Homo sapiens: one gene and its partner. The protein of the gene in region 2 interacts with the protein of the main gene of each other region in a pairwise test. Each region holds a gene or a part of one and is shown on either strand. Other genes may lie near its edges.

Region 1 (3,750 bases), on a different chromosome or scaffold from region 2:
ATGGCCTGTGAGGAAAGCGGGGACCCCGTGGGGCAGGGTGGGAAGGGGACAGAGGAGCAGGGCTGGGCAGACTGGGAAGAAGACCTGCACCCCTGGTGACACTCACAGGTTGTGTTTGTGAATCAAGATGAACAGCCCGTTCAAGGCCAAGAGGCTGAGGGCCCCCCCTGCAGACAGACAGACACAGGCTGGAGCTGCAGTGACCTCGCTCCCACCCTACCCCCTGCCCACACTGAGTGTAAGTCTGTGGAGTGTGGCCTCTGCCCCTGCTGTCCCCTCCCACAGCCCCCACGGACACAAAGCTGGAGACCACATGCAGGGCAGGGGAGTGGGGGGTGGAGGCAGTGGGATCGGGGAAGAGGTGCTGCGGGGTGGGGGTTGGGGGTGTGAGCGAGGCGGCGGCACTCACCGAGGGGATTAGGGGTGTGGTGTGAGCGAGGCGGCGGCACTCACCGAGGGGATTAGGGGTGTGGTATGAGCGAGGCGGCGGCACTCACCGAGGGGATTAGGGGTGTGGTATGAGCGAGGCGGCGGCACTCACCGAGGGGATTAGGGGTGTGGTATGAGCGAGGCGGCGGCACTCACCGAGGGGATTAGGGGTGTGGTGTGAGCGAGGCGGCGGCACTCACCGAGGGGATTAGGGGTGTGGTGTGAGCGAGGCGGCGGCACTCACCGAGGGGATTAGGGGTGTGGTGTGAGCGAGGCGGCGGCACTCACCGAGGGGATTAGGGGTGTGGTGTGAGCGAGGCGGCGGCACTCACCGAGGGGATTAGGGGTGTGGTGTGAGCGAGGCGGCGGCACTCACCGAGGGGATTAGGGGTGTGGTGTGAGCGAGGCGGCGGCACTCACCGAGGGGATTAGGGGTGTGGTGTGAGCGAGGCGGCGGCACTCACCGAGGGGATTAGGGGTGTGGTGTGAGCGAGGCGGCGGCACTCACCGAGGGGATTAGGGGTGTGGTGTGAGCGAGGCGGCGGCACTCACCGAGGGGATTAGGGGTGTGGTGTGAGCGAGGCGGCGGCACTCACCGAGGGGATTAGGGGTGTGGTGTGAGCGAGGCGGCGGCACTCACCGAGGGGATTAGGGGTGTGGTGTGAGCGAGGCGGCGGCACTCACCGAGGGGATTAGGGGTGTGAGCGAGGCGGCGGCACTCACCGAGGGGATTAGGGGTGTGGTGTGAGTGAGGCGGCGGCACTCACCGAGGGGATTAGGGGTGTGGTATGAGCGAGGCGGCGGCACTCACCGAGGGGATTAGGGGTGTGGTAGGAGTGAGGCGGCGGCACTCACCGAGGGGATTAGGGGTGTGGTGTGAGCGAGGCGGCGGCACTCACCGAGGGGATTAGGGGTGTGGTGTGAGCGAGGCGGCGGCACTCACCGAGGGGATTAGGGGTGTGGTGTGAGCGAGGCGGCCGCACTCACCGAGGGGATTAGGGGTGTGGTGTGAGTGAGGCGGCCGCACTCACCGAGGGGATTAGGGGTGTGGTAGGAGTGAGGCGGCGGCACTCACCGAGGGGATTAGGGGTGTGGTGTGAGCGAGGCGGCGGCACTCACCGAGGGGATTAGGGGTGTGGTGTGAGTGAGGCGGCGGCACTCACCGAGGGGATTAGGGGTGTGGTGTGAGTGAGGCGGCGGCACTCACCGAGGGGATTAGGGGTGTGGTGTGAGCGAGGCGGCGGCACTCACCGAGGGGATTAGGGGTGTGGTGTGAGCGAGGCGGCGGCACTCACCGAGGGGATTAGGGGTGTGGTGTGAGCGAGGCGGCGGCACTCACCGAGGGGATTAGGGGTGTGGTGTGAGCGAGGCGGCGGCACTCACCGAGGGGATTAGGGGTGTGGTGTGAGCGAGGCGGCGGCACTCACCGAGGGGATTAGGGGTGTGGTGTGAGCGAGGCGGCGGCACTCACCGAGGGGATTAGGGGTGTGGTGTGAGCGAGGCGGCGGCACTCACCGAGGGGATTAGGGGTGTGGTGTGAGCGAGGCGGCGGCACTCACCGAGGGGATTAGGGGTGTGGTAGGAGTGAGGCGGCGGCACTCACCGAGGGGATTAGGGGTGTGGTAGGAGTGAGGCGGCGGCACTCACCGAGGGGATTAGGGGTGTGGTGTGAGTGAGGCGGCGGCACTCACCGAGGGGATTAGGGGTGTGGTAGGAGTGAGGCGGCGGCACTCACCGAGGGGATTAGGGGTGTGGTAGGAGTGAGGCGGCGGCACTCACCGAGGGGATTAGGGGTGTGGTGTGAGCGAGGCGGCGGCACTCACCGAGGTCGCAGGCGCGGGTGAGGAAGTCGATCATGAGCGTGGGCTGCGCCAGCTGCGGCAGGATGGCGTCATGCACAATCAGCAGCACCTTCTTGTAGAGGCTGAGGGGCAGCTGGGCGGGGGCCGGCAGGTGGGGGTGAGGGGCGGGTGGGCGGGGGCCGGCGGGTCGGGGTGAGGCCTCCGCCCTGGGGGAGACCCGGATGCCGCCCCCGCCCCCTCCCCGGCCTGGCCCCTACCTTGTGCTTGAGGAAGCTGAGCCACATGGCCTGGAAAACCCTCCTGTGCTCCTGCAACGGGGTCCAGACTGCACTCGCCGCCCTCCCCACCCCAGACCAGAGCCCGAGCAGCTGCCAGGGCACCCCGAAGCCCAGCCTGAGCCAACACAAGCCTGCTCTCCACTTTTCTGACCCTGCCTTCCTTCTTCCTGTCCCCATTCAAGTCAGGTACGCCTTGCCCTCGAGGCTGGAGTCTCAGAACAGCCAAGAAAGCAGCTTTGGCAAGACCATGGCCAAGAGGGGGGCTGCGCCCAAAACAGCCCACGGGGCCCACAGGTGGCACCAGAGGCTTGACTCCAAGAGGCGGCGGTGGCCTCTGACCCAAGGGAGGGTCCCGAGTTCACAGGTCTCGTCACCTCCCACACTTCGAGTGACCTGGTGGCCGTGCAAGCTGCCACCTGTACCCTGGGAGTTTCCTCTGGTGAGGAAGGCGGCAGCCTCCATGGGGTCTCACATGCACCCCACACACACCCCCAAACCCGGGAGGGTGCCCGGCTCTCCAGAAGCAACTCACCTTCAGGTGAGCAACCTTCCAGGTGTCCCACAGCTCTGCAGGGAAAGCGAGGGCAAAGGTCACCTGACCCGCAGGGGAGGCAGACCAAGGCTCAGCCCTGTCCGCCCCTGACTCTCAGCACACTCACCCGCCCGCTTCACATAGAAGCTGGAGACGGTGGGCTCCCGGCGGGGCAGGCTCACGGCAGACAGCAGCGTGAAGGCATTGTTCCAAAAGGCGGGGGGCACCTGCGGAGCCTGGCCTGAGTGCCTGGACGCCGCCCCCCAGTCCCTGCCTCCCTGGGAGGCAACAGCATGATGCTGGCGACAGGACCCCATCACCCACCTCGGGGTGCTGGCCAGTGACCCGGGCCACGGCATCCACGGCTGCCTGCATGGTGTGGTAGCGGGTGTCGTCGTAGTCCAGGTACTCCCGGAACTGGGACAGGAGCAGGCTCTGGTCCTCCTCAGGAGACAGCAGGCCTCCCACCACCAACTAGGGGCAAGGACCAGTGAGCAGCCCTGCCCGGCCCAGCATACGCCAGCAAGGTCCAGGCAGGCAGCCCTGCCCCATCGAGCCCCCCAGGCAGACTCCTCCTGGTTGGGTGGGCCACAGGAGCCACAGGAGTGTCCCAGCCAACAGCCAGGCTCAGCTCAGCAGGCCCCGCCCCCACTACGGGGCCATCCTGGGATCTGGCCAGCCAGCCAGGCCCTCTGGGAGTCCCCAGCAA
Region 2 (3,750 bases):
CCCGCCCCATTAAAAATTGAATCTTCTGGGTGCAGTGGGGAACCTGTAGTCCCAGCTACTCAGGAAGTTGAGGTTGAGGCAGGAAAACTGCTTGAGCCCAAGAGTTTGAGACTGCAGTGAGCTGTGATCTCGCCACTACACTCCAGCCTAGGTAACAGAGTGAGACCTCAACTCTTTTTTTTTTTTTTTTGATTGGGAGTCTCGCTCTGTTGCCCAGGCTGGAGTACAATGGCGCAATCTTCGGCTCACTGATGCCTCCCGGGTTCAAGCAATTCTCCTGCCTCAGCCTCCTGAATAGCTGGGATTACAGGCACCCACCACCACACCTGGCTAATTTTTGTATTTTTAGTAGAGATGGGGTTTCACCATATTGCTCAGGCTGGTCTCTTGGCCAGGCTGGTCTCAAACTCCTGACCTCCTGATCTGCCTGTCTTGGCCTCCCAAAGTGCTGGGATTATAGGGATTATAGACGTAAGCCACTGCACCTGGCTGAGACCTCAACTCTTGAAAAAAAAAAAAAAATTAATCTTATCTTCCATAGAAGCAGGTTCCAAGACTGTTTAGTTATGTTATCAATTAGTTTGAGTTACCTAATAAGAACATATTATTTTAAAATTACACTAGTAAATAAACTTTTCATTAGATCTAGTTGACAGATATTTACTCAAAAAAGATTTACTGAGTTGAGCCTGTTCTTCTACGTGGCTGTCTACTCTTATAGATATATGAGCTCCTATATATACTGAACCCCTTTAGGATGGCCAAAGTCGGGCAGGTCTGGTGCCTTGCACCTATAATCCTAGCAATTTGAGAGGCTGAGGCAGGAGGATCTCTTCAGCTCAGGAGTTCAAGACCAGCCTGGGCAACATAGAGGGACCCTGTCTCTTAAGCAAAAAAAAAAAAAAAAAAAGAAAAGATTGTCAAAAAATCTGGGAAAAAGGTCTACTTTCAGAAAACTATGGAAGTGGGGTCAATAGCTGTTTTCAGAGATGTATGCTTTGTCCTCTGATTACATTGACATTCTTATAGGACAATAATGGGCTTCTACTTTTACAATAACCTCTATCCCCAAAAAGCAGTGATGCCCTGAGGTGGAGGAAGGGGATGTCATTGAATAAGGGCTGAATTAATTAATCCAACTGTGAATTCCCAAATCCAGCTACAAGTGTAAATTACCTGGGGAACTTTATTAGTACAGATTATTGGATCCTGTTCTTTTTTTTTTTTTTGAGACGGGGTCTTGCTCTGTCGCCCAGGCTGGAGTGCAGTGGCGCAATCTCAGCTCACTGCAAGCTCCGCCTCCCGGGTTCACGCCATTCTCCTGCCTCAGCCTCCCCAGCACCTGGGACTACAGGCGCATGCCGCCATGCCCGGCTAATTTTTTTTTATTTTTAGTAGAGACGGGGTTTCACCGTGTTAGCCGGGATGGTCTCGATCTCCTGACCTGGTGATCCACCTGCCTCGGCCTCCCAAAGTGTTGGGATTACAGGCATGAGCCACCACGCCTGGCCTGGATCCTGTTCTTCATTGAGATTCCAAGTTAGTCTTAGAATGTTGTTGTTTTGTTTTTTTTTTAATTTTTTATTTTTTGAGAGAAGGTCTTTTTCTGTTGCCCAGACCATAGTTCTATGGCACAATCATGGCATCATGGGTCACTGCAGCTTTGAGCCCCTCAAGTGATGAACCTGACTCAGCCTCCCAAGTAGCTGGGTTTACAGGTGCGCCACCACCACGCCTGGTGATTTTTTTTTTTTTTTTTGTAGAGACGTGGTCTTACTACATTGCCCAAGCTGGTCTCAAACTCCTAGGGTCAAGCCAACTCCTGAGGTCAAGTGATCCTCCTGCCTCAGCTTCCCAAAGTGCTAGGACTACAGGAGTGAGCCACCATGCTTGGCCTGGAATCTCTTTTTTTTTATTTTTCTTAACAAGATTACTTGGCGCAGGGACATGGCCTTCACACTGGACTGTATGACACACCAGGCTGTCCCAGGTAGCAATGCAACCTTTGATTCATACACATAGCTGAACAGCAGTGACCGCATGCACCGAAGTCATATTACCTCATAGGCTTCTGCCAGCTGGGAGAACTTCTCCTTGGCTTTGGGATCATCCTTATTTGTGTCAGGGTGATACTTCTTGGCAAGCTAAGGGAAAAACATGATAAATTACTCCAGATACAATGTGAACCCCAAATACCAGAAACAACAAAACCCCCGATACAACAGAACCCCAAATACCAGTCATAATTATGTTCCCTTTATAAAAGTTGTCTCTCGGCTGGGTGCAGTGGCTCACGCCTGTAATCCCAACACTTTGGGAAGTGAAGGCAGGCAGATCACTTAAGCTCAGGAGTTCAACACCAGCCTGGGCAACACAGCGAAACCCCTCTCCACCAAAAATAGAAAAAATTAGTCAGGCGTGGTGGCACATGCCTGTGGTCCCAGCTACTCAGGAGGCTGAAGCACGAGAATCACTTGAACCTGGGAGGTGGAGGTTGCAGTGAGCAGAGATCGAGGCACTGCACTCCAGCCTAGGTGACGGAGTGAGATTCTGTCCGCCCCACAAAATAATAATAATAATGATCTGTTTTAATGTATCCATCTCTTAACTTGAGGGCAGGAACTGATTCTGATGTATCTTTGCCCTTAGCACCCAGCATGGCTTAGAATAGGTAAATGAACAAAAAAGAAAAACAAATTTTTAAAAAGGGGGCCGGGCGCAGTGGCTCATGCCTGTTATCCCAGCACTTTGAGATGCTGAGCTGGGTGGATCACCAGAGGTCAGGAGTTTGAGAACAGCCTGGCCAACATGGCGAAACCCCATCTCTACTAAAAATACAAAAATTAGCCAGGTATGGTCACACGCGCCTATAAACACAGGTACTCGGGAGGCTGAGGCAGGAGAATTGCTTGAGCCCAGGAGACAGAGGTTGCAGTGAGCCAAGACTGCACCACTGCACTCCAGCCTGAGCCACACGGCGAGACTCTGTCTGAAAAAAGAAAAAATTTTTAAAAAGGGAAGAAAATGACTGAATAAATAGACGTCTCTGCTGTTTCAATTATTTTTGTAGGTAAATAAAATACAGTAATTGCTACAGCTTTACCTGATCTTTTTACTTCCGTGCCTAAAAATCTGAATGGTTCTCTAAATTAAGTCTTTCTCTTAAATTATGTCTCTGGGACTTACTAAGGGCCTCAAATCAACTGTCATGTGAGTCCAACCCAGCCTCCATCTTTTCAATCTTTTCCCACTCTTGGATCAGGCACCTGACTCTTGAGCTCAGGAAGAGACAGGCCATTCGCTCTTCACAGGCCAGGATCTCTGCTTCCTGTCCCCATGCCTCTGTTCATTCCATTACAACCCAATTAAAAAAAAAAGACAACCCAGTTAAAAGTGGGCAATGGATCCAAACACACGTTTCTCCAAAGACATACTAATAGCCAACATGCACAAGAAAGATGCTCACCATCATTAGTCATCAGGGAAAAAGCAAATCGAAACTCTAACGAGATAGCATTTCTTATTCACTAGGGTCGTAATTAAAAAGACAGACGATAATAGTTAAGTGTTCACTGGGATGTGGAGAAATCATGGCCCTCATATGCTGCTGGTGGGAATGTAAAATGGTGCAGCTGCTTTGAAAAAGGCTGGCAGCTTCTCAAAAGGTTAAACATCCAGTTACCATATGACTCAGCAACTATACTCCTAAATATCCAAGAGAACTGAAAACATGTCTACACAAAAACTTAC

Evidence for each region.
Region 1: the proteins of DNAJA3 (region 2) and NOC4L interact in binary tests that used the Homo sapiens proteins (3 or more experiments, as listed by UniProt).

The regions. Positions count from the first base shown.
Region 1 is NC_000012.12:132,147,398-132,151,147, reverse strand, and holds part of NOC4L (nucleolar complex protein 4 homolog), read right to left. Parts: intron 3,516-3,750; coding exon 3,366-3,515; intron 3,269-3,365; coding exon 3,169-3,268; intron 3,077-3,168; coding exon 3,042-3,076; intron 2,557-3,041; coding exon of another isoform or gene 2,540-2,556; coding exon 2,489-2,539; intron 2,365-2,488; coding exon 2,253-2,364; intron 168-2,252; coding exon 107-167; intron 1-106.
Region 2 is NC_000016.10:4,435,796-4,439,545, reverse strand, and holds part of DNAJA3 (dnaJ homolog subfamily A member 3, mitochondrial), read right to left. Parts: intron 2,145-3,750; coding exon 2,061-2,144; intron 1-2,060. UniProt on the Homo sapiens protein: Modulates apoptotic signal transduction or effector structures within the mitochondrial matrix. Affect cytochrome C release from the mitochondria and caspase 3 activation, but not caspase 8 activation.